Linked DNA regions of Homo sapiens. The protein of the gene in region 7 interacts with the protein of the main gene of each other region in a pairwise test. Each region holds a gene or a part of one and is shown on either strand. Other genes may lie near its edges.

The links.
Region 1: the proteins of CEP70 (region 7) and HDAC4 interact in binary tests that used the Homo sapiens proteins (3 or more experiments, as listed by UniProt).
Region 2: the proteins of CEP70 (region 7) and GLE1 interact in binary tests that used the Homo sapiens proteins (3 or more experiments, as listed by UniProt).
Region 3: the proteins of CEP70 (region 7) and IK interact in binary tests that used the Homo sapiens proteins (3 or more experiments, as listed by UniProt).
Region 4: the proteins of CEP70 (region 7) and ATOSB interact in binary tests that used the Homo sapiens proteins (3 or more experiments, as listed by UniProt).
Region 5: the proteins of CEP70 (region 7) and SPANXN3 interact in binary tests that used the Homo sapiens proteins (3 or more experiments, as listed by UniProt).
Region 6: the proteins of CEP70 (region 7) and MAGOH interact in binary tests that used the Homo sapiens proteins (3 or more experiments, as listed by UniProt).

What each region holds. Positions count from the first base shown.
Region 1 is NC_000002.12:239,135,521-239,139,020, reverse strand, and holds part of HDAC4 (histone deacetylase 4), read left to right. Parts: intron 1-3,500. UniProt on the Homo sapiens protein: Responsible for the deacetylation of lysine residues on the N-terminal part of the core histones (H2A, H2B, H3 and H4).
Region 2 is NC_000009.12:128,507,719-128,511,218, reverse strand, and holds part of GLE1 (mRNA export factor GLE1), read right to left. Parts: intron 2,344-3,500; coding exon 2,122-2,343; intron 1-2,121. UniProt on the Homo sapiens protein: Required for the export of mRNAs containing poly(A) tails from the nucleus into the cytoplasm. May be involved in the terminal step of the mRNA transport through the nuclear pore complex (NPC).
Region 3 is NC_000005.10:140,654,329-140,657,828, forward strand, and holds part of IK (protein Red), read left to right. Parts: intron 1-187; coding exon 188-258; intron 259-352; coding exon 353-399; intron 400-1,500; coding exon 1,501-1,664; intron 1,665-3,225; coding exon 3,226-3,334; intron 3,335-3,500. UniProt on the Homo sapiens protein: Involved in pre-mRNA splicing as a component of the spliceosome. Auxiliary spliceosomal protein that regulates selection of alternative splice sites in a small set of target pre-mRNA species. Required for normal mitotic cell cycle progression.
Region 4 is NC_000009.12:35,105,863-35,109,362, reverse strand, and holds part of ATOSB (atos homolog protein B), read left to right. Parts: exon of another isoform or gene 1-158; intron 159-625; 5' UTR 626-769; intron 770-1,013; 5' UTR 1,014-1,088; coding exon 1,089-1,982; intron 1,983-2,471; coding exon 2,472-2,530; intron 2,531-2,719; coding exon 2,720-2,825; intron 2,826-2,952; coding exon 2,953-3,111; intron 3,112-3,353; coding exon 3,354-3,422; intron 3,423-3,500. UniProt on the Homo sapiens protein: Transcription regulator that may syncronize transcriptional and translational programs.
Region 5 is NC_000023.11:143,508,235-143,511,355, reverse strand, and holds the end of SPANXN3 (sperm protein associated with the nucleus on the X chromosome N3), read left to right. Parts: intron 1-2,193; coding exon 2,194-2,541; 3' UTR 2,542-2,621; downstream 2,622-3,121.
Region 6 is NC_000001.11:53,232,019-53,235,518, reverse strand, and holds part of MAGOH (protein mago nashi homolog), read left to right. Parts: intron 1-1,866; coding exon 1,867-1,977; intron 1,978-3,500. UniProt on the Homo sapiens protein: Required for pre-mRNA splicing as component of the spliceosome. Plays a redundant role with MAGOHB as core component of the exon junction complex (EJC) and in the nonsense-mediated decay (NMD) pathway.
Region 7 is NC_000003.12:138,503,761-138,507,260, reverse strand, and holds part of CEP70 (centrosomal protein of 70 kDa), read left to right. Parts: intron 1-1,795; coding exon 1,796-1,966; intron 1,967-3,383; coding exon of another isoform or gene 3,384-3,425; exon of another isoform or gene 3,426-3,500.

The DNA.
Region 1 (3,500 bases), on a different chromosome or scaffold from region 7:
GGCAAGCTAGAGAGGAGTCAGGGGACGCTTGGAGTCCCTAGGTGGGAAAGATGTCAGAGACGCAGGAGCTGAGTGGCAAGGCAGGGAGGAGTGGCGCCCAGGCTGGCCGAGTCGCACACTGACCATACTCGGAGGCTTTCCAGGGCAGCAGGTCCGAGGACCTCGCTCCGTGTTCCTTGAGCTCCTTTGCGCCCCCTGCCTTTATCCCACACGTGTCCCGAGCGCCTTGTGCCAGGCCCAGGGACAGAACCAGGCAGGCAGCAAGGACCTGCCCCACACTCCACACAATGCCCCACTGACAAGGAGAGGCCACCCCCAGAGCACGGGGAAGAAGAGAGAGGCAGAGAGAGGCAGTCCCGCAGGCTGAGTGGTGCCCTGGGCCTGGGTGGGCCTGACTGCAGGGCAGGGGTGGGAGGGGTACGCTTTAGCAGTGAGTTTTCTGATGAGTTGAGCTGGAAATGCTGTGTCTGCTTCATGGGGCAGAGTTCTACTGAGTGGGAGGTTCTTTCTGAATTCTCTCCAACTTACAGAAGGCTATAATTTATTAAATATAGTTATTGACTTTCCTTCTTAAATATTTAGAAATGAATCCTGCCCTTCCAAAGGATTGGCAAATCTTAGCTGGGATACAGAGGCATGAGTGTTTAGCATTTTCATTTCAAATTTCAAGACCGTTTATGTATAAACATTTTTAGAGACTAGAATTACTGCTCAGAACGAATTTTGCCCTTTGTCTCCAGGCTGCTTAATCCCCAATTTCTCTTACTCTTTCTACTTCATACATCGATTTCTTTTATTACCTGTCTTCTTCAGCCTGCCAACTTCAGTACTTATTTAGATGATTAGAAGTTTTAACAGTCCTCTGTATGGCTGTGGTCATAGCTGAGGTCTACCAGTAATAAGCCTTATAATGCAACCTAGAAATTACTTCCTGCCCTGAGGTTAACACTGGTTGCATCTTGTTGATTGTGGTCCTAGATACATGTTTTTATTTAAAATGAGGCACTTATGTACATGGTAGTTAATATTGGAACAGTGCCTTGTTTGGGTGGGTCTGCATCATTCCAGTTCTGTGTTAATTTTTAGAAATCACGATACGTAAATGAAGCTACTGGAAATTAATAGAACATGTAGAAGGAGTTACAGGAAATACCAAGAGGTGCCATTGTTCATGTTCCACATCAGATGTTCATTAGAGTGGGCACGGGCAGCCTTTGCATGTTGGATCACACCCAGGCGCCCTTTCTGGGTTTCAGTATCTCTAGAGTTGGACGGGTCTGTGAGAACACCTGTGCTTCATGGCCAGGGGCTGGCTCTCCGTTCTCACGTGGTGCAGAGTGTAGTGAGCTTGCCCGTCAGAGGGGGTGTCTCGAGTGGATGAGGATGTGGGGGGAGCAGGGGCCTCCCAGCCTGGCTCTCAGCACTGCCTTTTCTGTTCACCCTGGGGTCCCTAGAAACACTACTGTACCTTGAAGGCCCCCTGGACCCAGGGAAGCCCAGTGTGCCGGGCACCTCCTCCTCTACAGTGCCAGGGAGGCCCAGAGTGCCGGCACCTCCTCCTCTACAGGCCAGGGAAGCCCAGTGTGCCGGCACCTCCTCTACAGGGAGGAGGCAGGGCTCAGAGAGTGAGAGGAAGTCGCCCAGGTGCGTAAGGGGACAGCTCCTCTGTGGCCGCTGCTGCTGTTATTTACACGCGTGCCTGGATGCTCTGACCTCAGGCCCGCGGACTTTCCCTCTGAGCACATGCTGAGATGCGGTCCGGGGGCGCCAGCCTCAGAATGCCTCCCGCAGGGCTCGGCCCCGAGGCAGCAGATGCCAGAACGCCCTGCGATTTCTCAGGTGGACCAGTCGGCATCTCCAAGGAACAAATTCTCAGAAGCCTCCTTTAGTTCCAGAAATGGGCTTAAAAAAAACCTTGCTTACAAAGGAAATGAAAACTTTGCAAACATTAGAACGTCTCCTTATTTTGTTCCCAAATGATAACACAAGCATTTCCTCTACAGCATAACTTACTGATAATTCTTTAACTTTTGACAAAAAAAAAATTGCCTAGGAAAAATGTTTTCCTCAGTAGCCCTTTAATCATTCCTTACACAATGTAATATGTGAGCAAATCTAAAGGGAGTTGCAGGGTTTCCTCTGGGGCGAGGTGCGCCGTGAGTTTGCTCCTAAGTGAGAAGGCCGGGCTTTCTGTTCTGTAGGAACAGCCTGAGTGTAAGTGTTTGTCAGGAGAAGCGTTTCTTCCTATCCCCAATGGCCAGTCATATGTCTTTGGGGAAATGTCTCTTCAGATCCTTGGCCCACTTTTATACTGGCTGCTTCAGGTTTTGCTGGTGAGTTGCTGGAGTTCCCGCATGTTCTGGATACTGCTCCCTTGTCGGATGAATGGCTTGCACATGTTTCCCCTTCCCACAGGTCGTCTCTTCACTCTGGTGATTCTCTTCCTTTGCTGTGCAGAAGCTTTTTAGTTGAGCAGAGTCCCAGTTGCCTGTTTTCGTTTTTGTTGCCTGTGCTTTTGAGGTCTTAGCCATGGATCTTTCACAATAGCCAAGAGGTCGAATCAACCTCAGTGTCCTTCAGTGGATGAATAGACAGAGAAAATGTGGTGCTGTACACAGTGGAATACCATGCAGCCATCAAAAAGGATAGAACCCTGACATTTGCAGCAACATAGATGGAACTAGAGGCCCTCATGTTAAGTGAACTAAGCCAGGCACAGAAAGACAAACATGGCATTTTCTCATTCATCTGGGGGAGCTAAAAACGTTGCTGTCATGGAGGTAGAGAGTATAATGAAATCTGTTATCTATTCATTATTAACGTTAGCTTCTGGCAAGGGGATTTCTATCTGCCAAACCCCACTAACTAGCATGATTACAACAACATTTTATTCCTTCTCTTTGTTTGCCCATTCATTCAGCAGACATTCCTTGAGTAGCTACTGTGTAGGGGATATAGTGGTGATAAACTATTGTCCTTTTTAGCAAAACACGTTCATTCTACAAGCAAAAAGATGTTAAATATCACAGTAGTTCAAGTCCTTGGAGACTGTTGCTGCTGACTCTTCCTGTGTGGCCTTCTAATCTTTACTCCTGGCTTGTGTTTGCTTTATCCAAGCCCATTCTTTAAAAGGTACATGATCTATAACCTGTTTTTCTAACTTAATGTATCATAAACAAGTGTCCAAGTAATCAGCTAGATCGTTCCCAACCCCCAGAGCATCCCGGTGTGCAATGCCCCTCCGTTCTGTTAACACCAAGGTGTCGGGGAAGCCGCATAGCTCTGCCATGCCTGCTGGGTGCTCGGCCCTGCAGCGGAGGCTTCATGGGCATCAGGCCATCTCCTTATTTCTTAACGTTACATCCCAAGAGTGGAGCTCCAGCATCAAAGGTTAGACAGATTTTGAAGGCCTTTGACATAGATTGCCAAATTGTCCTGCAGAAAGGGTGCCACTAACTGATTTGTGATTCACCCAACAGTGTTCGCCGTTCCTCTAGGCC
Region 2 (3,500 bases), on a different chromosome or scaffold from region 7:
ATATACATATATTTTGAGACTGAGTCTTGCTCCGTTACCCAGGCTAGAGTACAATGGCATGATCTCAGCTCACTGCAACCTCCGTCTCCCGGGTTCAAGCAATTCTAGTGCCTCAGCCTCCCAAGTAGATGGGATTACAGGCGTGCGCCACGACGCCCAGCTAATTTTGTATTTTTAGTAGAGACAGGGTTTCACTGTGGTCAAGCTGCTCTCGAACTACTGATCTCAAGTGATCCACCTGCCTCAGCCTCCCAAAGTGCTGGGATTACACGTGTGAGCCACCACACGTGGCCACAAAGAATATTTTTTAAAGACTAATATTTTAAAAGATGAACTACTAGATAGAAAAAAAATACTTTCTATGTAAAAAAGAAAAAAAAAAAAAAAACTGGCCAGGCACAGTGGCTCACGACTATAATCCCAGCACTTTGGGAGGCCGAGGTGGGTAGATCATCTGAGGTCAGTAGTTTGAGACCAGACTGGACAACATGGCAAAATCCTGTCTCTACTAAGAATACAAAAATTAGCCAGGCATGGTGGCGCACACCTGTAATCTCAGCTACTTGGGAGGCTGAGGCAGAAGAACCGCGTGAACCCAGGAGGCAAAGGTTGCAGTAAGCCGAGACCATGCCACTGTACTCCAGCCTGGGTGACAGAGCTAGACTCCATCTTAAAAAAAAAAAAAAAAAAAAGCCTGGGTGTGGTGGTTCACACCTGTAATCCCAGCACTTTGGGAGGCCGAGGTGGGCAGATCATAAGGTCAGGAGTTTGAGAACAGCCAGGCCAATATGGTGAAACACCATCTCCACTAAAAATACAAACATAAGCCGGGCGTGATAGTGGGTGCCTGTAATCCCAGCCGCTCAGGAGGCTGAGGTGGGAGAATCGCTTGAAGCCGGGAGGCGGAAGTTGCAGTGAGCTGAAATTGCGTCACTGCACTCCAGCCTGGGGGACAGAGCAAGACTCCGTCTCAAAAAAAAAAAAGAAAAAGAAAATAGCCAAGTATGGTGGTGTCCACACGCAGTCCCAGCTATTCGGGAGGCTGAGACAGGAGGGTGGATTGAGCCTGGGAGGTGGAGGCTGCAGTGAGCCATGTTCATGCCACTGCACTCCATCCTGGTTGACAGAGACAGACCTCAGCTCAAAAAAAAGGGAGGGTGAAGAAGAAGACATGTTCACGTATATTTGTATATACACAAACTACCTCTAGAAGTATATAAAAAGTAATTTTAAAAAACTTCCAAAATTTAACTTTTTTTTGAGATAGGGACTCACTCTGTTGCCTAGGCTGGAATGTAATGGCTTGATCACAGCTCACTGTAGTCTCAAACTCCTGGGCTCAAGTGATCCTCCCATCTCAATGTCCCAAGTAGCTAGGACAACAAGCTCGAGCCACCATGCCTAGCCAATTTTTAAGTATTTTGGAGAGACAAGGTCTCACTATGTTGCCCAGGCTGGTCTTGAACTCCTGGGCTCAAGCAATCCTCTTGTCTTGGCCTTCCAAAGCACTGGAATTATGGACATGAGCCACTGTGTTGGGTCCAATTTAACTTTTTTTTTTTTTTTTGCGTTTAGGAGTGGAGGTTTAATAGGCAAGAGAAAGAGAAAGGAAAATAGTTCTCTCTCTAGTGAGAGAGAGGGGTCTTCTGAGAGGAAATGGCCCCAGTTTAGCATTTTTAAGTGGGAGAAATAACAAAAAAACAGAGGCAGGGACAAAACAGAGCCAGGAATAGGGTAAAATCTCCTACAGAACCAATGAGAGAAGGCATGTAAACTTAAAGAGAAGGTATACATTTCACTCTAAGCCTTCTTCCAGCAGATAACACAAAAAGGGAGACCATATCAGTTAAACAGACGCAGCGTTCATCAGAAAAAAAAAAAAATCCAATTGCTCATGAAATTAGTTATACTATTCTCGGTACTAAGAATAGAGGGGATTTTTCTCCCTCTGGATCTGTCTAAAGAGAACACTGAATGGTGCTGTCAACATTGTCTCTACAACAGCTACAACAATGAGCAATCATTATTTCCCCTAGGGTATGGTCACTGTCATATGACAATATTAAACATTTTGACTTTGCAGCCACCATGTCTTTTGTCTTAAGCTGATCACAACCTTACCTTGGTTCCATTTGGTGTTGCAGGGGAGGCTGGGGAAAAGGCAGAGCTTGCGTCAGGAGATTTGGGAACAAATGAGGGTTGATCTAGGGCTGAAGCTGACGTAGAGGATGGCGAAGTCTCAGACAGAGGTTGGTTCTCCTGCATATGGGGTAGGACGTGCTCTACCACCCATCCAGAATAAGAAGATAGCTTGGGAAGAGACATACATTCTTCTAAAACATCCTAGAGAAAAGAATAGGGTTAAGCTCAACTTACACGTCAACTGTTCTCAGTATAATCCACTACATGCCTTACTGAACATCTAAGAAGGCCTAAATAAATAAACATCAAAGACCCAAAGTAATGTATTAACAATCAGATGAAAACAAAGTACAGTGGTTTCTTGATAATGACCTAGACTACTATCCTTCTAATGAAAATCAGACTAAATAACCCTAACTACAGAAAAAGGGACAATGCACAAAGATTCCCACTAAAGCATATGTGAAAGCAATCTAAAGCACTGAACAGAACACGAGGAATTCTGAAGTAAGCTACTGTATACACAATCAGTAGAATGTCAGTCACTTAACAATGGGGGTAAGTTCTGAGAAACACAGGGTTAGGTGATCTTGTCATTGTGCGAGTATCGTAAAGCATCCTTACACAAACCTAGATGTATATATTTTTTCATTTTTAAAATTAATTATTTTTGAGACAGGGTCTCACTCTGTTACCCAGGCTGGAGTGCAGTGACCTAATCATGGCTCACTGTAGCCTGACCTCCTGGGCTCAAGCTATCCTCCCACCTCAACCAGTCTCCCCAGCAGCTGGGAGTACAGGCATGCGCCACTATATTCAGCTAATTATTTTTTCATTTTTTATAGAGATGGAGTCTTGATATGTTGCCCAGGCTGGTCTTTTTTTTTTTTTTTTTTGAGATGGAGTTTCGCTCTTGTTGCCCAGGCTGGAGTGCAATGGCACGATCTTGGCTCACCACAACCTCCACCTCCCAGGTTCAAGTGATTCTCCTGCCTCAGCCTCCTGAGTAGCTGGGATTACAGGCATGCACCACCATGCCTGGCTAATTTTGTACTTTTAGTAGATACGGGGTTTTCTCCATGTTAGTCAGGCTGGTCTCGAACTCCTGACCTCAGGCGATCCACCCGCCTCAGCCTCCCAAAGTGCTGGGATTACAGGCGTGAGCCACTGTGTGCCCAGCCTTTTTTTTGAGATGGAGTCTTGCTCTGTCACCCAGGCTGGAGTGCAGTGGCACGATCTCAGCTCACTGCAACCTCCACCTCCCGGGTTCAAGCAATTCTCCTGCTTCAGCCTCCCGAGCAGCTGGGATTACAGGTGTCGACCACCACACCCGGCTAATTTTTGTATTATTACTAGAG
Region 3 (3,500 bases), on a different chromosome or scaffold from region 7:
ACAGCAGTTATTGTACTTTGTTGAAATTGTTTAATTTGTCTGTCTCATCTGCTATAAGCTCCATTAGAGTAAGAACAATATCTGTCATGTTTAATATTATATTCTTAGTTCCTGGTACAGTGTGGTGTAGTGGATGTTCAATAAATATATAAAATGAGTGTCCTAACCCTGCTTGCTTTCCTGTTAGGTACGAGCTGAGATTGCCAGCAAAGAGAAAGAGGAAGAGGAACTGATGGAAAAGCCCCAGAAAGAAACCAAGTAAGTAAATATTATGGAAAGGTTGAGAATTTAGAAAGGTGGGACCTAAAGTTAGAGCACATTTAGCAAAAATAAAACTTTTTTGTCTTTTCAGGAAAGATGAGGATCCTGAAAATAAAATTGAATTTAAAACACGTCTGGGTGAGTACAGTTTCTATACTAGTGACTATGCATTCTGGATGAATTGTACGGAATTTAATGCTCTGGGAAGGATATGCTTCTCCTTTCCCCCAACCTCCTTTCTTCTTTCTTTCTTTTTGAGACAGTGTCTCACTTAATCGCCCAGGCTGGAGTGCAGTGGTGTGATCATGGCTCAGTGCAGCCTTGACCTCCTGGACTCAGCCTCTTGTGTAGCTGGCACCACAGGCATGTGCCACCATACCTAGCTAATTTTTTTTTTTATTTTTTGCAGAGATGGGGTTCTCTGTGTATTGCCCAGGCCGGTCTCAAACTCCTGGGCTCAAGTGATCCTCCTGCCTTGACCTCCCAAAGAGCTGGGATTCTTTCTTGCCCCCAAAACAACTAACTCCCATAAAATACTCTAATAAGACTCAGACATAGATTTAATTATTTCATATGTCATTTATGTCTCCTCAGGTAGATTGAAAGATTTTTCAGTTTGGGGCTTATGAGTTAAAAGAAGTAACATGGTTAGTGATTAAAAGTTCAAAACTTGGAGTCAGAGAGACCTGAGTTTAAACCTTGATGATGAAACAGCACTAAGTGTATGATTTTAGGCAACTGACTTTGCTGTTTGTTCATCTGTAAAAATTGGGTTACTATTTACCACATGACTTTATTGTAGGGATGAAGAAAAATGAAATCTATAACATGCCTATCATATTGAGCAGGTAGTAGAGCTGTTTTTTCCATCATCATCAATATTACCTTAAACTTCATCCTTCTTCCTCACAGGACTTAATACAATACAGGTGCATAGTGCCCTTGAAGAGGCAATGTAGAAGAGTGGACAGGAGCCCAGGCTTTGGAGTTACATGGCCTGGTTCCATTCTTTGCTCCATTACTTAGTAGATACATGACTTTAGGTAAATTACTTAAATCTCAGCCATAGTATTCTTATCAGTAAAAAGGATAATAATATCCACTTCATAGGGCTGTTGCAAAGATTAAATGACGCAAAGCTTGCATAGCACTTGGCATGGTGGCTAGCACAGAGTAAGCACATAAGTGACAGCTGTTCTTGTAGATCCTGGCTACTTGCTGCTCTTCTCCTTATTGTAGGCCGCAATGTTTACCGAATGCTTTTTAAGAGCAAAGCATATGAGCGGAATGAGTTGTTCCTGCCGGGCCGCATGGCCTATGTGGTAGACCTGGATGATGAGTATGCTGACACAGATATCCCCACCACTCTTATCCGCAGCAAGGCTGATTGCCCCACCATGGAGGTGAGTGAATGGAATCCTGAGAGCCTATCATGTGAGCCTCAAGCCTGGGAATCAGCCTGGCCTCTGCCCCGTGTCCCTTGTCCACCATGTCACCAAGTGCTGTTCACTTTTACCTCCTAAATCTCAACTGAATCCATTCACTTTTCCACTTTTTCACCAATAACATTCCAGTCTAAGCTATAATCATTTGCTGGAACTATTAACTTACTATTTTTTTAGAGACCAAGTCTCACTCTGTCACCCAGGATGGAGTGCAGTGGTGCTATCTTGGCTCACTGCAAACTCCGCCTCCCAGGTTCAAACGATTCTCCTGCCGCAGCCTTCCAAGTAGCTGGGACTACAGGCATTCATCACCACACCTGGTTAATTTTTTTATTTTTAGTAGAGATTGGGTTTTACCACGTTGGCTAGGCTATTCCTGACCTCAAGTGATCCATCCGCCTTGGCCTCCCAAAGTACTGGGATTACAGGCATGAGCCACTGCGCCAGTCCTCTGGAGCTATTAAAAAGGCTTCTAATTGGTTTCCGCACTTCCACTCTGGTTTCCGCACTTCCACTCTGATTTGTTATTATATCTTGTTATTGAGGTGTTATTCACATGCCATATAATTCATCCTTTAAAGAGAATTTTTTTAAAAATTTTTGTGGATATATAGTAGGTATATATATTTATGAGGTACATGAGATGTTTTGATACAGGCATATAATGCATAATAATCACATCATGGAAAATGGGGTATCCATCCCGTTAAACATTTATCTTTTGTGTTACAAACAATCCATTTATACTCTTTTAGTTGTTTTAGAATGTATAAATTATTACTGCCTATAGTCACCCTGTTGTGCTATCATGTAGTAGGCCTTATTCATTCTTTCTATTTTTTTGGTACCTATTAACCACCCCTACCTCCCCTACCCTTCTAAAATATACAGTTTGGCTGGGTGCAGTGGCTCACACCTGTAATCCCAGCACTTTGGGAGGCTGAGGTGTGAGGATCACTTGAGGTTAGGAGTTCAATACCAGGTGGGCCAACATTGTAAAACCTGATCTCTACTAAAAATTAGCCAGGCGTGGCGGCATGTGCCCGTAATCCCAGTTACTCGGAAGGCTGAGGCATGAGAATTGCTTGAACCCAGAAGGTGGAGGTTGCAGTGAGCCAAGATCGTGCCACTGCATTCTAGCCTGGGCGACAGAATGAGACTCTGTCTCCAAATAAATAAATAAAATGTAAATTTTTGTCTCACTACAGTTTAGAAGCTTTTAGTAGTATCTCATTCTTAGGATAAAGAGCAAAATCTTTACCATGACTTTGAGCCTCTGCAACATCTGGCCTTTCTAGAATGTTCTAGACTCCTGACTTTCTTGAATGGTCTTGATTCATTTTGATGCAGGGCTTTTGTGCAGGCTGTTTTATCTCTGGAATATCCTTTCACAGCACTTCGTTTCCCTCCCTTCACCTACTGTATTGTAATTCAGTCTTTAGTTTGTTAAGTGAATGAATGAATAAATGAAGAGATTTCTGCTGAGTGGTTTAACATTCTTGTTTCTTGGTATTTTCAGGCCCAGACCACACTGACCACAAATGACATTGTCATTAGCAAGCTGACCCAGATCCTTTCATACCTGAGGCAGGGAACCCGTAACAAGAAGCTTAAGAAGAAGGATAAAGGTACCTGGAGGGTTAGAGAGAGAAGCCTTACCCACAGAGGACGTTTGGGGATAAAACCAAGGTCTCCTGGAGCTTTCTGTCTCCAGAATATTGAGAGGCTCCTGGGAAGCAGAGAAAAATGGGAGTACTGGAGCATTGGCAAGGAGACAGTTACAGCCAGATTCTG
Region 4 (3,500 bases), on a different chromosome or scaffold from region 7:
CTTCTGGCAGTGACCCCTTCCCCTTCCCCTTCTTGTTTTTGGTCGGATTTGTTGCCTCTTGTTAAAGAGACAGGCTGCTGGAGGCAATTTGGAGTTCAGGGCTGAAAGGCCAGCTCTGAGCTGACTTGAAATTTGTACCTCTGAGGACCGCTGATGGGGTATAACTGTGTGGGAGACCTCTGCCCTTAGTGCCCTAGGATGGCACTTGTCCCTTTGGAGATAGACATATAAGAAGGAGTTGTGCAATTTGGTGGCTTTGAGTAAGAAAGCTGAATTCTTCCCCTGGCCGCCTCTCAGCTGACACGGTCTCTTGGATCTTGGGGGTCTCTCATCCCTTCCTCCATGTAGGGCAGGAGTCCTCAAATGGTGGCCCTGACAAGTAGTTATTCTACCTCAACTCACTTGTCACATCCTTATTATACTGAGCCAAGACCTGCCTCTTTGACTCCTTAGGTAGCCCAACTCTGCCATCTGTGCCCTGGACCCCAAGCCTACCCTTTCTGTTCCTGAAGAGCCTCTCACATGGGAGAAGGATGTCCTGGAGTGTACTATTAGCCTATAATTGGTGACAGGCCTTACCGCTGGCTCCAGTGATCCTGGCTTACGTCTGTTCTTCTCTCCTCAGGGTCCTGCTGAGCTCAGGAGCTGCACGGAATGGTGGCAGTCACCTTGCCAGTGCAGCAGGCATGGATCAGACTGCAAGCTAGGGGCACGAGGCATCAGTTGGGAAGAGGGGACGCACAGCTAGGCTTGAGGCCTCTTCATCGGGGTAAGTACCAGGGAGAAGAGGGGGAAGTGTGTCCAGTAAGAAGCCTGAGCTAAACCTGTCACCCTCTCAGGAGTTCTGAGAGTGGTCTCTATATTCCATTAGTCCATCCAGGGATTTGTACACATTCATCCTTGGGAACCCATCAAAGTCACCCCTTTAGGCAAGGAGAGGGTCTGAAACTCAGCTGGAAGGAAGAAGACTCATTGATTCCCCTGACCACCTTTTCTTCTCTTCTCTTACACAGATGTCCCCAGGCCCCCCAGCCCAGGCCCAGCATAAAGGCCGTGTTGGGGGGCCCCCCTGACCCAAGGGGGGCTTCATGCGCCACGTGCAGGCGGAGCCGTCTCCATCCTCAGAGCCGGAGGCTGGCCCTTCACAGCCTCCAGTCAGGCAGGGGGCCCTCCAGGGTGGCCTGCTCATGGGCTACAGCCCAGCAGGGGGGGCGACATCCCCCGGGGTCTACCAGGTATCCATCTTTTCCCCTCCGGCTGGTACCTCTGAGCCTCATAGGGCCCTGAAACGACAAGCCCCATCCACTGAGGGTCCCCGGGAGCTGAAGAGAGGCCCTGGGCTGGGGGCCAGAGAGGGACTACCCCCTGAAGAACCATCTACTGTGGGGCTCTTAGGCCCAGAGGGACCGGGGCTGGGACTAGGTGTGGCCAGCCAGCATTTCTCCCACCGTGGCCTCTGTGTTGTGGAACAGAGAAGTAGTGTCACCTCATCTTGGACTTCGGGGGCCTGGAGTCCCCCCTGCCCCCCATCAAATGCTTCCTGCAATACTTTGCACACCAGAGACTGGGCCTCCCCAGATCCAGGGGGACAGGGGTCCCTGGGGGAGTCCCCAGGGCCAGCCCCTCCAGGCCAGCTGCACACACTTGACACTGATTTGCACAGTCTTGCACAAATAGGGGGTAAGAGCCCAGTGGCTGGGGTGGGCAATGGGGGTAGCCTCTGGCCTAGGGAGTCCCCTGGCACTGCCAATGGGCACAGTCCCGAGCACACACCCCCTGGCCCTGGACCCCCAGGCCCCTGCCCCACCAAGCGAAGGCTGCTTCCTGCTGGAGAAGCCCCAGATGTCAGCTCTGAGGAAGAGGGGCCAGCCCCTCGGAGGCGCCGGGGATCCCTGGGCCACCCTACTGCTGCCAACAGTTCTGATGCCAAAGCCACACCCTTCTGGAGCCACCTGCTGCCTGGGCCCAAAGAGCCTGTTTTGGTAAGCCAATAAAGGACCTCATTTACTCTTTTTTTACTTTTTTTTTTTTTTTTTTTTTTTTGAGATGGGATCTCACTCCATCACTGCTGGAGTGCAGTGGCACAATCTCAGCTGACTGCAACCTCCTCCTCCCAGGCTCAAGGGATCCTCCAACCTCAGCCTCCCAAGTATCTGGGACCACAGGCACATGACATTGCACCCAGCTAATTTTTGGTATTTTTGGTAGAAATGGGGTTTCGCCATGTTGCCCAAGCTGGTCTCGAACTCCTGAGCTCAAATCATCGACCCACCTTGGCCTTCTAAAGTGTTGTGATTACAGGCGCTCAAGCCACTGCGCCTGTCCTTCATGTACTCTTAAGTGGATATTTGTGTGGGTAAAGGTGGAGGCCTGGGGGGCAGGGTGTTCCTTTGAGAGTTTGTGATGAGCTTCTGCCCCAAAACATACATGGCCTTCACCCTGTGTCTTTTCCCAATCATTTCTCTCCGTAGGACCCAACAGACTGCGGTCCCATGGGGCGGAGGCTGAAAGGAGCCCGTCGCCTGAAGCTGTAAGTGACCAGCTTTTTCCTCTACCCTGTCCCTGAGAATGGGGGCAGAAGTCTGTACTCTTTCCAGCATCCGAGTAGGGGACCCCAGGGCAGAAGCCCTACATAGTGGCAGAGGGTGGAGTCCAAGGGCATAAGCAGGAATCCCAGAATACCTCAAGCCAACCCCCTGTGTTTCCCTTCCTCTACCAGGAGCCCCCTTCGAAGCCTCCGGAAGGGGCCAGGCCTGCTGAGCCCCCCCAGTGCCTCCCCTGTTCCTACCCCTGCTGTCAGCCGTACCCTGCTGGGCAACTTTGAGGTAGCTCCCGTTGGGGTTTGTGATTGCCGGGGTCCTGGGAGAGGTGGGATGGTGGAATGTGGCTTGGATGGATAAGGAAAAGAATTGGCATCTCTCTCTTCATGTGTTTTCCCTACCCTAATCCCAGGAATCATTGCTGCGAGGACGTTTTGCACCATCTGGCCACATTGAGGGCTTCACAGCAGAAATTGGAGCTAGTGGGTCATACTGCCCCCAGCACGTCACGCTGCCTGTCACTGTCACATTCTTTGATGTTTCTGAGCAAAATGCCCCGGCTCCCTTCCTGGTATGCCTTGACTCCAACCCCAAAGTCAGCTCATCAAGAGGATGAGGATTTGGGGGCGGGGCCAGGGGGCAAGAGGTATTTCTTACTTATTCCTCACCTAGAAGTGAGTCAGGGCCAGGTGAGGAGAACTCTACTGTAGGGCAGGGGCAGGTTCAGGGTGAGAGCTTGTGGAGAGGGACATGTGTTTAGGGCCCAGGGTTTTCCTAGTCCCCACCTTGACTGATGGCTCCCTGGCCTTCCAGGGCATCGTGGATCTGAACCCCTTGGGGAGGAAGGGTTACAGCGTGCCCAAGGTGGGCACCGTCCAAGTGGTGAGTTTGCCCTGAGGGAGTGGGAGTGGGGAGAGAGGAAAGCAGCCCTCAGGCCCTACCAACCTTGACTGTCCTGTC
Region 5 (3,121 bases), on a different chromosome or scaffold from region 7:
GAGCAGGGGCGACTTTATTTATGCCAGCTAGAAGGCATGATATCATATGGCCTGGTTTCTGCCTGTCTACAGAAGTTGCCTGATAATTCCGATTGAGGTCAGTTCTGGGGACAGCTAGGGTCCCTACTGGGTTATGAGCAGCATCTTGTTGGTGGAGGGTGTTCTCATGGACCTGGGCACCCGTAAATATGTGTTCCCTGTCCTCCAGGGTGAGGGTAGAGGAGAGGATGACATATATGTCATGCCAGGTAAGGTCATAAGATTTAGGGAAGTACAGACATTCCTTGAGGAAGGAGGTAGGATCCATTGAAAAGGAGCAAAGTCTCTTTTCAGTATGGGAGAAGTCAGCTAGGGAACTTGAATTCAGATTATGCCTTCAGTCCTTGCAACCTCCTGCAAGGGAAAGACTTTGGAAGGCCTTTGGGCATGTGTCTGGTTTTCGGCAAAAGAGCGTTGGGCGTGAGACCTGGTTTGAGGTGGAGAAGGAAGGGGGATGGAGGGTGACAGTAAGGGGGTGGAGGAGCCGGATCCGAAGGAGAAGGTGGAGGGAATGGGAGAGGGCAGGAGCCAGACGAAGGGGTTTGTTGGCCAGGTTGAAATTCAGAGGAGGAAGGCTTGTCCCGAGGAGGAGGCATTTTGGGGGGTTTCTCCTTGAGGAGGAAGATTTGAAAAGGTGAACAAGATTGGCAGGAGAGTGAGTGAGGCATGAGCGGAGATAAGCAAAGCACTTCAGATCATTTACCATTGTGTTGGAGAAAGATTTTTAGATGATGTTGAATTTGAAAGTTGAATGTTTTGTTTTTTAGAAGAGGGGAGTGAATACTCTGGATGGGAGTGAATACTCTGGGGAAAGTGAGTACCCCAGAAGGGAGTGAATACCCCAGAGGGGAGTGAGTTCTCCAGAGGGAAGTGAATACCCCAGAGGAAAGTGAGTACTGGATTCCACCTGGGAGAAGGGACCTGGAGAGTTGGGACAGCCCCATAGCTATTCATGCTCCCCAGAGGACGGAGCGGCCAGAATGGCAAGTGTTCTGAGGCTGTCCCCTGAGAAGGGAGGCTGCAGTCACCTGGTGACTGGGGAGACCTCTCACCCAGCACTGGAATTTTTTTGGAGAACAAGCAGAAATAGAAAGGAATCCAGAAAGGAAGAATAGGGAGACTCACCCACGAATTGAAGCCCAGTGTTGGATGTGATGTCCAGCAATGGGGGTGATCCTGGTTGCAGCTGCTTGGGAAGGGGAAGGAAGGAAAAATAAGATGGAGAGTTTGATCAATATCTGGAGGTTAGTCCAGGGCTGGAGAAGATGAGAGAATAGGGGAAACAGGACTGGGAACAGACAGTCCACTCAGGATCTGGAAGTAGGCCCCGGTCTAGTTTGTGCTGCTTGCTGCTTTCTGCTTTCCAGGTTGCAAGAGAAAACTTACCCATTAGAACCCAATCACCGTCCTGGGTTTTGGCACCAAAGTGTTAGGTTTTGAAGGGAAGATGAGGGTGAAAGAAAGACAGACAGAGAGGGTGCATCTCAAACAACAACACAGGAATATTGCAGACACCTGTGGAAGTGGGGGACCAGCTTAATGCCAGAGCCCACTGCCGCTTATAGCCTGGGGTACTTACAGGTATGGGTGGGAGGGAGCTGGGCAGTATGGCTTGCTGCCCAGGAGGATATTGATAAGATGTTCTTATGATCAGGTGGTTTGGCCCTTTTTCCAGTGGAATATCATTGTGGTGTTCCTTTGCAGCTGCCTGGAAAGGGGAATGAAGGAAAAATAAGATGGAGAGTTTAATCAATATCTGGAGGTTAGCCCAGGGCTGGAGAAGATGAAAGAATAAGGGGAACAGGACTTATGATAGGGATGTTTCTTTAGTTGAGCCTTTGTCCACCTTGTGGTCAGGTGGTTAGGCAGGATGTTGCTCATGGCCTGAACCCCCATGGAATGTTTCACTTTGACCAAGGTCTGCAACATAGCAAAAACTTACAAAATCATGCAGTTTGGACTAACAGGTGACTCTACCCATGCTCCTCTTCTTCTTCTGCATAGATACCTACCCTATGATTTCACCTTGTTCTTCTCTGGCACACACCCCTTCCTCCACCTGCATTCCTTCTCATAAAGCCCCCCTTGCTATCTAGTCTCTATCCTATTCACCCAAAATAATGTCTTTCTGGCCTCTCCCTATTTTCTTACCAGATGCAAGAGGTACCAAACAGAGTCTTAGCCCCCGAACAGAGTTTGAAGAACACAAAAACATCAGAATATCCAATAATATTTGTGTATTACCTCAGGAAGGGTAAGAAAATAAATTCAAATCAACTGGAGAATGAACAGTCCCAAGAGAACTCCATCAATCCAATCCAAAAGGAGGAGGACGAAGGCGTAGACTTATCTGAAGGATCTTCAAATGAGGATGAAGACCTAGGCCCATGTGAAGGACCTTCAAAGGAGGACAAAGATCTAGACTCATCTGAAGGATCCTCACAGGAGGATGAAGACCTAGGCTTATCTGAAGGATCTTCACAGGACAGTGGGGAGGATTAGTCACACATGGAGAAACCAAATTGGACAAATCATCACCACTGATGGCGATGATTACAATAAAATCAAGTTTAAGGAGCTGATGACTGTGTTTATCTCTGCCTGTTGTCTGGTGTGGGGTGGGGAAGGGAAGGGAAGAGGTAGGCATTTGAGAAGGGAGGGATATGAGGTCCTGTAGGTTGGGAGACGGACCCACAGGTTGACAGTTAGCCAGACATTGCAAATAAGGACTGGCGGAGGACTGATTCCTCAGACAAATTTTCTTCTTAAAATTTTGTCTTACAGGAGAGGAAGAAAAGGACATGGTGTTTCTTGGAGCATGTGATTGTGTAGAAGGGTGTACAAAAAGATCTGTATTCGCTGGGCATGGTGGCTCATGCCTCTAATCCCAGCACTTTGGGAGGCTGAGACTGGCAGTCACCTGAGGTCAGGAGTTTGAGACCAGCATGGGCCAACATGGTGAACCCCTGTCTCTACTAAAAAATATATAAAAATTAGCCAGGCATGGTGTCAGGCACCTGTAATCCCAGCTACTTGAAGGCCAAGGCAGGAGAATCGCTTGAACCCAGGAGGTGGAAGTTGC
Region 6 (3,500 bases), on a different chromosome or scaffold from region 7:
GCATTGTTTTTATTGTTTCTAGTAGTATTGAAAGATAAAGAACAGGGAGAGAGACACATGTCTGTAGACAGCTTCTGGATTATTTCCCAAATCATCTTTTAGTTGGGATTTTTTTATTTTACATTGTGGAATCAATTACTGGTAACCTTTGACATACCTTGGTTTGAACCCTGAGTCTGCTGCTTACTACCCCATGTGACCTTGGGCAAGTTCCTGGCTGAACTTGATAAATCTCTGTTTCTTCACCTGTAAAAACAGGAATAATAAAAGCTACCTCCCACTCCCAAGTGCTGTCATAAAATTAAATATGTTCTATTTAAAGTGCTCTATATTCCCTGTGTACATGGTACACAATGAAGAGCTATTTAATTTACATCTGAGTGGGAAAGGGAGCATGGGAAAGCAGTTGACATCATTGAATGCATGTTAGATGTCAGGCGTGGCATCTTATTTAACCCTGATTGTAAGCCCATGTGATGGGGGAGGGTATTATAGCCCCCTTACAAATAAGAAAATAAAGGCCCAGGTATTAATTATGAGGCTTGTTCTGAGTTACCCCTGCTAGTAAGAGATACAGCAGGAATTCCCAATCCTGCCCCAGTAAAGTTTGTATTCTCCGTTCTGTGATTTCTACTACATCATTAAGGCTTCATCAAAGCTACTCTTTCCTTTTAACCACTTTGCCACCTTTGAAAATGTCTTAGCATATATTTTCATATTGTTATTTTAGCTATTGATTTTATGCTTATTCACACATGTCAATATCCTCACTATTTTTTTACACAGGCATATCTTTTAAAATACATTTTGCTCCTCAGGAGTGTATTACCTAGTTAAGAATAACTGGCCGGGCGCGGTGACTCACACCTGTAATCCCAGCACTTTGGGAGGCCGAGGCGGGCGGATCACGAGGTCAGGAGATCGAGACCATCCTGGCTAATACGGTGAAGCCCTGTCTGTACTGAAAATACAAAAAAATTAGCCAGGCATGGTGGCGGGTGCCTGTAGTCCCAGCTACTTAGGAGGCTGAGGCAGGAGAATGGCATGAACCCAGGAGGCAGAGTTCGCAATGAGCCGAGATCGCACCACTGCACTCCAGCCTGGGCGACAGAGCAAGGCTCCGTTTCAAAAAAAAAAAAAAAAAAGAATAACCAGGGCATGTGGGTGTCGCAGTCTCTTTTTTGCTGCAACAAAATGCCTGAGACTGGGTAATTTGTAAGCAGTAAAAATATATTTCTCACAATTTTGGAGGCTGGAAAGTCCAAGATCAAGGCGCTGGCAAGTTCAGTGTCTAGTGAGGGCCCAGTCTCTGCTTCCACAACTGTGCCTTGTTTTTGCATCCTCCAGAAGGAATGAATGCTGTGTCCTCATATGGTGAAAGAACAAGAAAGGGGCCAGCTAGTTCCCTTAAGCTCTCTCCTAAAGCACTAATCTATCCCTGGGGCCTCTGCCCTCAAGGCCTGATCACCTCCTAAAGGCCCTATCTCTTAACACTGTTGCTTTGGGGATTAATTTCAGTATGATTTTTTTGGAGGAGACAAAAACATTCAAACCATGGCAGGGGGCACTCACAGACCTGTTTTGGGTTTCGTTGTGAGTTGGGTATGTGGGCAGGCAGAAGGGCCATGTGAACAGGATGTACCAGGAGGTAGTAACAGCTAGATAGGGGACTGAGGTGCAGTTACTGGATACTTCTGACCGTGTCCCTCACCTGCATCATGCCGAGGTTGAGCATGAATGTCTTCCCACTTAAGGAGATGCCAGAAATAAGTCTGCAGGAACAGTTATTTTTATCTTCCATCACTATCTGAGTCAAAGCACTGCTTAAGGATACAACATACATTTTGTTTTTTAACTTGCGTTCAGGCTTATGTACATAAAAGCGTGATGGAGGAACTGAAGAGAATAATTGACGACAGTGAAATTACCAAAGAGGATGATGCATTGTGGCCTCCTCCTGACCGAGTGGGCCGGCAGGTGTGTTTTATTGATTATCCTGTAGTGCAGAAATCTTACAAATAAGACCCCCCACACTCCCTCCTCCACTTAAAGCTTTTGTTGCCTATCTCACTTACTAACTACTATGGACAAAGCATTGTGGAGATACAAAGAGAAATAGAACATAATTATTTCAACAATCTAATGAAAGGAAAATCATACAAATAATTCAGTGTATGTATTTAAATTCATGTATATTTATATACATTAATGTATATATTCATTCTGAGCACCATTTTGGTAACTAAAAAATAAAAGCCACTGTCATATTGAACTGAATTAACAGAAAAGGTATTTTCACTCTTGACTGCTACCATCCTAATCCAGACTTCTAATAGATTTCCTTGTTTTTCCTCTTGTTCCATACCATCCATTTTTCCATCCTGAAAGCCAGTGTGATTTATTTATTATTTTTTTTTTGAGTTGGAGTCTCGCTCTGTCGCCCAGGCTGGAGTGCAGTGGCATAATCTCAGCTCACTGTAACCTCTGCCTCCTGGGTTCAAGCGATTCTCCTGCCTCAGCCTCCCGAATAGCTGGGATTACAGGCGTCCTCCACCATGCCCAGCTAATTTTTGTATTTGTAGTAGAGATGGCGTTTCACCATGTTGGCCAGGCTAGTCTCAAACTCCTGACCTCAGGTGATCCGCCTGCCTTACCCTCCCAAAGTGCTGTGGTTACAGGCGTAAGCCGCCGCATCCTACTGGTCTGATCTTTAAAAACGTAAATTTGCTTATGTATTCCACTGATTTAAACTCCAATGGCTTCCCACTGTACTTAAAATTCAAACTCCCACCTTATCTTTTACCGGGCTTCCAATCTGTCATGGTGTTCAAACCTTACTAGCTTCATTTCTGTTCCTCAGACATACCTAGGTGGTTCTTACTTCAGGGCCTTTGCACTTGCCACATTCCGCCTAAAATATTCTTCCTTTAACTTTATACAAGACTGTCTCTATTATTGAGGTCTTCAAAAGTCACTTCCTCAGTGATGTCTTGCCTGTCCATCCAATCTAAGAAGTCGCTTCCCATCATTAAGAAAAAGATCTGTTGTGTTGTCTTTTTGTGTTTTTTTTTCTTTTTGCTTTCAGTTTTATCACAATATGTGTTGTCTTTGTAGCACTTGCTATTGTCTAAAATTGTCTTACTTGCTTTTCAGTGTTTTCCACTGCTGTATCTCTAGTGACTAAAATAGTACCCATGTATAGTAAAAGCTCAATAATAATGTATTTGTTAAATTAATATGAAAACCCATATAAACTCATTCCTAATAATCTCAAAATGATGGACCAACCCTTGAAGAGTTTTTTTTAAAAATCCACCCTCAGTACTTACTAAAGTTAACTTTAATTTATGTTCAAGGGAGCTCAGTAATATCATATATATGTATTTTGCTTTACCACTTATAAAATTTTTATTTCTATTAACTCGTTCTACCATCACAACAATTCTGTAAAGAGGGAAGGGCATATTCCTTTGTACCAGCAATAAGCCATTGGATACTGT
Region 7 (3,500 bases):
GTTGTGTATTTTTAAATTTAGCTCTTGCATATTTCTTGTTAGGAAATACCTTGTTATTTCCTAGGTATTTTATAACTTTTATTGCTATTGTAAATGGGAACCAAGCACCTTTCTGAAAACTGTTTTGTTTTAGACTTTCTTGTACCAGTATATAACTGGATTTCATTTTGTTTCTGAGACTCAATTTGAGAGGCTTTGTCCTTTAAAAGGGGAATTCAAGCCGGGTATGGTGGCTCATGCCTGTAATCTTAACACTTTGGGTGACCGAGGCAGGAGGATTGCTAGAGGGCAGGAGTTTGAGACCAGCCTGGGCAATATAGTGAGACCACATCTCTAGAAAAAAAAAAATTTAATTAGCTGGGCATGGTGGCTTGTGCCTGTAGTCCTAGCACTTGAGAGGTTGACATGGGAAGATCACTTGAGCCCAGGAATTCAACGCTGCAGTGAGCTCCGTTCACACCACTGCACTCCATCTTAGGCTGCAGAGTGAGACTCTGTCAAATAAATATATAAAACAAATATACATACATCAATTTGAAGTGAAATATTGAATTATACTAATTTGGACTTAAAAAGCTTCTAAATAAACATCTGAAGTAATAAACATCTTAAGTCATATTACCAGGAGGCCTATTAGTTATATCTTGAAGTATGACCAGGGACAAAGATTCAAGAGCAAAATGCTATCTTTATATTGTGAAACTTTTTATTAAATAGGCTGAACTTGATGGTGGTAATAGGAAATGGCTTTATTCTTCTCTCTTTAAACATGCTTTTTGAGGTCTCCCTTTTTTTCCTCGGATGATATGTAAGGTAGAACCCATCACTTATGGGGAGAGGGTTATAGTCAAATAGTATACTATCTTAATATATTAAGATACCTAAAATTCAATCCAGGCATCAATGATATTATTTTTGGAGACAGGGTCTTGCTCTGTTGCCCAGGCTGAAGTGCATTATCATAGCTCACTGCAGCCTTGAATTCCTGGGCTCAAGTGATCCTCCTGCCTCAACCTCCCAAAGTGCTGGGATTACAGGCATGAGCCACCACACTCAGCCTGGGGATTGCTGTTAATTTCCTTAAATAGTCTGATAATGTTCTTGTGAGTTTGTAGGAGAATATGCCTACTTTTAAAAGATGCATGCTTTATTATTTGAGGGTGAAGAGTTTCTTCAAATGGTTCACCTAAAAATATAGATAGTGAGCAAATATGGCAAAATACTAACAATTTTTGAACCTAGGTAGTGTTTGTAATAGTTAATTTTGTTTCAACTTTACTGCGGCATAGGATGCCCGATATTTGGTTAAACATTATTCTGGATGTGTCTGGGAAGGTGCTTCTGGATGAGATTGACATCCGAATCAGTAGACTTTAGTAAATCAGACTGCCTTTCCTAATGGGGTGGGCCTCATCCAATGATTCAAAGCCCTGAGTAGAACAAAAGGCTGAATAAGAGGGAGCTCCTCCTCCCTGACTGCTTTCAAGATGGGACACTGGTTTTTTTCTTGCCTTCAGACTCAAACTGAAACATTAGCACTTGCAGGGGTCTCAGTCTGCCTGCATTTGGACTGCAAATACCCATTACCTTTTCTGGGTCTTCGCTTACTCACTGCAGATCTTGGGACTTGTCAGTCTTCATAATTGCATGAGCCAATTCCTTATGATAATTTTCTTTGTATATTTAATGAAATATGTGTATATAATATATATAGACATAAAGCACTCCTTTAAAATATATAACTTTGTAGGCATAGGATAAATATTTTGACTATATACACTATGTTTTTTTAAAGGTGCTGTGTAGCATCAATTCAATTATCCACAATCCAAGAGCTCCAGTAATAATTTATAAACAGACCAAAGGGGGAGTCCAAAATTTTAATAAAGATCTTGTTCAAGATTGTGGATTTGAGCATCTTGTTCCTGTAATAGAAATGTGGGCAGATCAACTGACATCCTTAAAGGTAAGGGGTTGACTATGATTATATGCTTTGAACATCTATTGGACTCTATGTGCTTTATTAATAGGACTTAATTCAGGGCTAAAAATTAAATAGGGTTTAATTTTTTTGTTTGTGTGTTAACTCTAAAGCTAAAAAAGCTTATTATCTAAAACCGAAATCTTCCTACTTACATATCTATTTTAGGTACTGTCTATTTGATGTTGTCATTACTGTAAGCTTTACCTCCTCTAAGATTCTACCAAACAAGAAATTTTGGGGTTAGTTTCCTTATTGAAAATCTATAGTGGATCCACTTTGTACTTCTAGGCCCTTCCCTGTTCTACCTTCATCTGCCTCCTTTTCATATCTCCATGCTGCGATTTTCCTGGCCCTTATCCCTCTTCAGATATAATGTCTTATCCTTCATTTTATTATAATTGGGGATATTTTCTCTCTCTTCACACTTTATTTTCTGTCTCTCAGAACTGAGCTTATCTCCATTTCTGCTTATTCTCTAGAACAGATAGTAAGCTAGCAGCCAACGCTACCCTTCCCTATCCTATCTCTTCATGGAAGACCACATTTTATTTATAGAGTTATTGTGTATTTATTGCATAGCTTCAGGTTTTTTCAGTTTTTGTTAACTAGTTTGCTGAAAGGTAAATAGTTGAAATCAGTAGTATTTAACTTCTTTGCCCTTTACACTTTAGATTTATTAGTAACTAATATAATACATAGCATATGCCTGTTAATGAAAATGTGATTCAATAACAGTGTTTGCAACATAAGTCTTATTACATGAAGTACAAATGATGCAGAAGATATCTGTTAAGAATGTATAAGCTCCATGAAGACAGTGTTTTTATTTGTTCTGATATGTCCCCAAGATCCTCCTGATGAATGAGTGCTCAATTAATATTTGTTAAAAGGAATGAAGCAGAATATTATATTCCAAGACAACAAAATTGGGGGTGGTGATGTTAATTTTTTTTAAATTTCGACTTCCCTTTTTATATAGGGCTCAGACAGAGCTATACAATACATAAACATTTTGATTGAGTGACAGTGCTAGATTAATATACTTACTTTATAGACCGGAGTTCCTCCAGTCTGTATCTCAGAAGAGTGTAAAATAATTAGTAATAGTGTAAATCATGGTATTTCCTCAATCACTGCCTGTCAGAGGGTTCTCCCAGTAGGAGGAAACAGTGCTGACTCCACCTTTCTTCATCTCAGAAGGGATGGACTAGAAAAAGCCCTAGCCTTCCTAGAAGAAAAGACTAGAAGAGGAAGAAGACAAAGGGAAGAATCACACTAATGGATAGTTATTGATCGTTTATCATGCTAAGCCATTATGGGATGAACACAAGATTCAGACTAATTAGACAAAATATACTAAAAAATATGAAACAAAATGTAATCATTTATATCGTTAAAGGAAATGAGTGACATAAAAATAGATTACCGGTTGAAGTTCTGAGTGAATGATGCAGATAACTTGTGCTCTAGAGTCTGGAGGAGAAAGAGAACACTCTGATTGTAGCCCCCAAGAAGG